Linked DNA regions of Homo sapiens: region 1 is linked to region 2. Evidence: fine-mapped expression QTL. Tissue or cell type: whole blood. Region 2 holds a variant in brackets; the other region holds the start of a gene. All regions are shown on one strand. Distances are from middle to middle.

What was found. PIP is the estimated chance that this variant, and not a neighbour inherited with it, causes the effect.
Region 1: DHTKD1 starts here. The variant in region 2 is fine-mapped to the expression of DHTKD1 in whole blood (INTERVAL, PIP above 0.99).

What each region holds. Positions count from the first base shown.
Region 1 is chr10:12,067,930-12,070,429 of GRCh38, reverse strand. DHTKD1 (dehydrogenase E1 and transketolase domain containing 1) reads right to left here and starts at 1,476. Exons shown (of 17, transcript NM_018706.7): 1 at 1,243-1,476. The coding sequence starts at 1,396. RefSeq lists silencers at 1,141-1,300, 1,401-1,450.
Region 2 is chr10:12,117,197-12,120,040 of GRCh38, reverse strand. DHTKD1 (dehydrogenase E1 and transketolase domain containing 1) reads right to left here. Exons shown (of 17, transcript NM_018706.7): 14 at 2,286-2,368; 15 at 1,123-1,292. Among named protein-coding and RNA genes, the nearest start is that of SEC61A2, 11 kb to the left of the region's middle. The variant A/G (reference allele first, on the strand shown) is at 1,438.

The sequences.
Region 1 (2,500 bases), 49 kb after region 2:
AGTTCTAGTGTGTGATTGATGGAACATTCCAAGGTCAGGTGCCCAGATGCCGAAGGGGATCTTCAACATTAATCTAATGATCAGATCAAAGATGCCAAATGATTTTCCTCTAATAAGCAATCTGTACTTATCTTCTACTCCGTGAGGATAAATAATGATACAATAATTTTGGAGCGTAAACCAAATACTCAAAATTAGTCTCGCAAATGAGCATGCAACAGAAGTTCCAAAAGCTGATATTCATGACTGTTAATTCATTAAAACCACCAGCACATATCAAGGTGTCAATAGAGTGGCTAAAAGGAAAAGAAAGAAACCCCACCAGCACATAGTTCCAAATTCAGCAGAGTTAAGAGTTAAACTCTGAAATTAAAGTAACAGACTAGCTACAAGGAGACAAATACATAATAAATATCATGCTGTCTTCCAAGACTGGAACTAACTGCCCACTTCTCCCAAGCAATGCAGTCTTGGACCCCCCCACCTGCTCACATAAAAGAAGCCTCAGAGATGGTCCTGGAAATGTATCCTTGGGAGACCTTAAAACTTTACTTCTCCCACAGCTCCGCCTCATTAAAGAGCTGGTTTTCTAGGCTGGGTGCAGTGGCTCAGCCTGTAATCCCAACACATTGGGAGGCCGAGGCTGCAGGATCAGCTTGAGCTCAAGAGTTCAAGACCAGCCTGGGCAACATGGTGGGACCCCATCTCTACTAAAAATGAAAAAAAAAAAAAAAAAAAAAAAAAAGCTGGGCGTGGTCATCCCTCTGTGTCCCCAGCTACTCGGGACGCTGAGGTGGAAGGATAGCCTGAGCCCAGGAGTTCGAGGCTGCAGGGAGCTGTGGTCGCAGCACTGCACTCCAGCCTGGGCCACAGAGCGAGACTCCGTCTCAAAAAAAAAAAAAAAAAAAAAAGGAAACAAAAAGAGAAAGAAAAAAAGAGTTTCTCACACGTTTCCAACAAAGGAAAGAAAAGCCCTTCCGAAACCAGGTCCGGACCAGCAAGATGGGAAGACCACCCAAGCGTGGACCTCAAAGATCCTCAGTTACAGAGGATGGACGGGGGATGACCCCAACACTGAGCACCCACACCTACCCTCTGCTCCCCTCACCTCCCCCTCCTCCCCACCGGCCGCGCGTTCAGGCCGGCAGCCGGTTCCCCGACCCCGACACCCCACCGCAAATCGGCCAGGGGAGGCTTCTGCGTCCCAGCCCCCGCTCCCACCGCCCGGGCCCCATCCCCGACCTGGGGGGCGCTCCAGGGCGCCCTGGGGCTCGCGGCTCTCGGGCTTCCTCGGCCGGTAGCCGTAAACGCCCCGCTCGGTCTGGTAGCCACGCCAGAAGAGAGGGAGAGCCCGGCCGAGGCCCCGTCGTGCTGCTGCCGCAGTAGCAGAGGCCATGTTCACCAGATGTCCCGGCCAGCATGCTAAGGCGGGAGCCCGAGGGGATCCCACCGGCCCTGGTAAATCCGGGACTCGTCAGAGGCGGCCGGAGCCCCGCCCCCAGACAACGCCCCCGCGCCTGATTGGCCGACGGGCCGGACCCTGGAAGCCAATCCGTGGCAGCGGCACTCACAGCGAAGCGACGCCCAGGATTGGGGCGGGCTTCCAGGGCGGTTCCGGCGGCTGAGACCGCCCTGCTCCACCGCAGGGCGGGGCAAGTAAGTGTTCCGCGGGGCGGCACCTGCTCCCAGTACGAAACAGGATGTAGCTGCAGCGCCTGTAGTCTCCCGCCAGGAGTGTTTACCCATCACGCCTCTGCCCAACCGCATAGACACAGTCTAGGGTGTCTGTTACAGAAAGGACAAATTAGCCACAGGGTGGATAGGAAATGGCTAGGACTGAGACCAAGGGACGCAAAAAGCAAAGGTTACTTAGCGCAGCTACAAAATCAATACCCCTAATTTTTTTGTTTTCTTAAGAAACATTAACAGAGGCCGGGCGCGGTGGCTCACGCCTGTAATCCTAACACTTTGGGGGGCCACAGCGGGAGGATCATCTGAGGTCAGGAGTTTGAGACCAACCTGTCCAACATGGCGAAAACCCATCTCTACTAAAAATACAAAAATTAGGTCGGGCGCGGTGGTTCACGCCTGTAATCCCAGCACTTTGGGAGGCCGAGGCGGGCGGATCACCTGAGGTCGGGGGTTCGAGACCAGTCTTACCAACGTGGAGAAACCTCGTCTCTACTAAAAATACAAAATTAGCCAGGCGTAGTGGTGGGTGCCTGTGGTCCCAGCTACTCGGGAGGCTGAGACAGGAAAATCGCTGGAACCCGGGAGGTGGAGGTTGCGGTGAGTTGAGATGGCGCCATTGCACTCCAGCCTGGGCAACAAGAGCGAAACTCCGTCTCAAAAAAAACAGAACAAAAACAAACAAACAAACGAACAAAAAAAAAAAAACAAAACAGGCTGCAGTGGCTCATGCCTGTAATCCCAACACTCTGGGAGGCCCTCTGGGAGGCCAAGGAGGGCGGATCACGAAGTCAGGAGTTCGAGACCATCA
Region 2 (2,844 bases):
GTACCCATACAACAGTTCTGTTTTTCACTGTTGGTACAGTATTCGATAAATTATCTGAGATATTCAACACTTCATTATGAAATGTAATAGATTTTGTGTTAAATGATTGTGCCCAACGATAAGCTAATGTGAGTGTTCTGAGCATGTTTAAGGCAGGCTAGGCTAAGCTGTGTTTTGTAGTTTAGGTGTATTCAATGCATTTTCTTTTTTCTTTTTTAAGTTCTGGGGTACACATGCAGGATGTGCAGGTTTGTTATGCAGGTAAATGTGTGCCACGGAGGTTTGCTCCTCAGATCATCCATCACCTAGGTATTAACCCAGCATCCATTAGCTGTTCTGCCTGATGCTCTCCCTCCTCCCCCATGACCCTCGGACAGGCCCCATATATGTACCAAATTTTCTTTCTTTTTTTTTTTTTTTTTTTTGAGACGGAGTCTCGCTCTGTCGCCCAGGCTGGAGTGCAGTAGCGCAATCTCGGCTCACTGCAAGCTCCGCCTCCCGGGTTCACGCCATTCTCCTGCGTCAGCCTCCCAAGTAGCTGGGACTACAGGCGCCCGCCACCACGCCCGGCTAATTTTTTTGTATTTTCAGTAGAGACGGGGTTTCACTGTGTTAGCCAGGATGGTCTTGATCTCCTGACCTCGTGATCCGCCCACCTCGGCCTCCCAAAGTGCTGGGACTACAGGCGTGAGGCACCGCGCCCCGCCTGTACCAAATTTTCATGTTTTTGTGTCTTTTTTTGACACAGAGTCTTGTGCCCAGGCTGGAGTGCAGTGGCACAATCTCGGCTCACTGCAACCTCCGTCTCCCAGGTTCAAGCAATTCTTCTGCCTCAGGCTCCCAAGGAGCTGGGACTACAGGCGCCCGCCACCACGCCCGGCTAATTTTTTGTACTTTTAGTAGAGACGGGGGTTCACCGTGTTAGCCAGGATGGTCTCAATCTCCTGACCTTGTGATCCACCCACCTCAGCTTCCCAAAGTGCCAGGATTACAGGTGTGAGCCACCGCGCCCGGCCCAAGATTCAATTTTCTAATAACCCCCACCACATCTTTTCATTTAAAAGAGCTGAAATGGGTTTTGGGTATCTGAACATCAAAACCCAAATGAGAACAACCTCTTACCTTTAACATGTTTGTATTTGCTCATCTCTTGCTGTAAAGAATCCAACGGGAAGGGGCAGAGTTCCTCTACTCGGATGATGGCAAAGTCATGCTTCTTGGCCCCCAGAGATTCTCTTTGTTTCACCAGGGAGTAGAAATGTTTGCCGGAGCAGAACACGAGGGTCTTAACCCTGTTGGACAGAAAAGGAACAATAGGGTGGGGGAGAAATTTTTTAAAGTAAGAATTACGTCAGAAGAGGCCAGGTGCAGTAGCTCACGCCTGTAATCTCAGCACTTTGGGAGGCCAAGGCGGGCGGATCACGAGGTCAGGAAATC[A/G]AGACCATCCTGGCTAACACGGTGAAACCCTGTCTCTACTAAAAATACAAAAAATTAGCCGGGCGTACTGGCGGGCACCTGTAGTCCCAGCTACTCGGGAGGCTAAGGCAGGAGAATGGCGTGAACCCGGGAGGCGGAGCTTGCAGTGAGCCAAGATCGTGCCACTGCACTCCAGCCTGGGCGACAGAGCAAGACTCAACCTCAAAAAAAAAAAAAAAGAGAATTATGTCAGAAGAAACGGGAGACAGTGCAGATTTAAAGTCCTCATGAACAAGGTGGTGGGGGTCTCTGCAGCCGAGTTCAGTCACAGGCTATTCCTGGGGACCCTTCTTCAGCAACATGCGCCTACAAAGTCCACTTTCCCACCCACACTTAACTCATACTCCACTGACTTAAAGGACTTAGGATAGAGGAGGCCAGGCATGGTGGCTCACGCCTGCAATCCCAGCACTTTCAGAGGCTGAGGTGGGTGGATAACCTGAGGTCAGGAGTTCGAGACCAGCCTGGCCAACATGGTGAAACCCCATCTCTACTAAAAATAAAAAAATTAGCAGGGTGTGGTGGCGGGCACCTGTAATCCCAGCTACTTGGGAGGCTGAAGCACAAGAATCACTTGAATCCGGGAGGCGGAGGTTGCATAGAGCTGAGATTGCACCACTGCCCTCCAGCCTGGGCAATAGAGCCAGACTCAGTCTCAAAAATAAATAAATAAATAAATAAATAAATAAATAAATAAATAAAAATAGGAGAGGGGAGATCTGCATCACCTGTGATCTCTTAATGTGAACTACTTTTCCCATTAATTAAAATTCTGCCACAGAATATGAAAACAGAGATACATATCTTACTTTTTTGGATCCACAGATGAATCACCAATGACCGGGTTAAATGTTGTTCCTGGTGCCATTTCTTGAAGAGTTGACACGGCTGCCTACGAGGGAGAAGAGGCCACACATCCAGCAAGCAACAGAAAGAGGTGATGCTGTCACTTACAAGGGCCGCTATCAAACACGAGTACCAAAGTTCTAGCCTAGCACTGCAAGGAGACCCATGTCCTAATAGACGCAATGCCTTGCCAAAAAATATCAGTTCTGTATACTTCAGGGTAAAACTATGTTTCTGAGGTTACATAAGATAGCCTTTTGGAATCTTAACACTTTGGGAGGCCAAGGCAGGAGGATCGCTGGAGGCCAGTTCAAGACCCGCCTGGGCAACATAGCGAGACTCCCTTTGCACCCCCTACTCCACCATCCCCACTGGTGCCTTGCCTCTATTAAAAAAAAAAAAAAAAAAAAAAAAGGTGCCGTGGCTCATGCCTGTAATCCCAGCACTTTGGGAGGCCAAGGTGGGCGGATCACCTGAGGTCAGGAGTTTGAGACCAGCCTGGCCAACATGGTGAAATCCCAT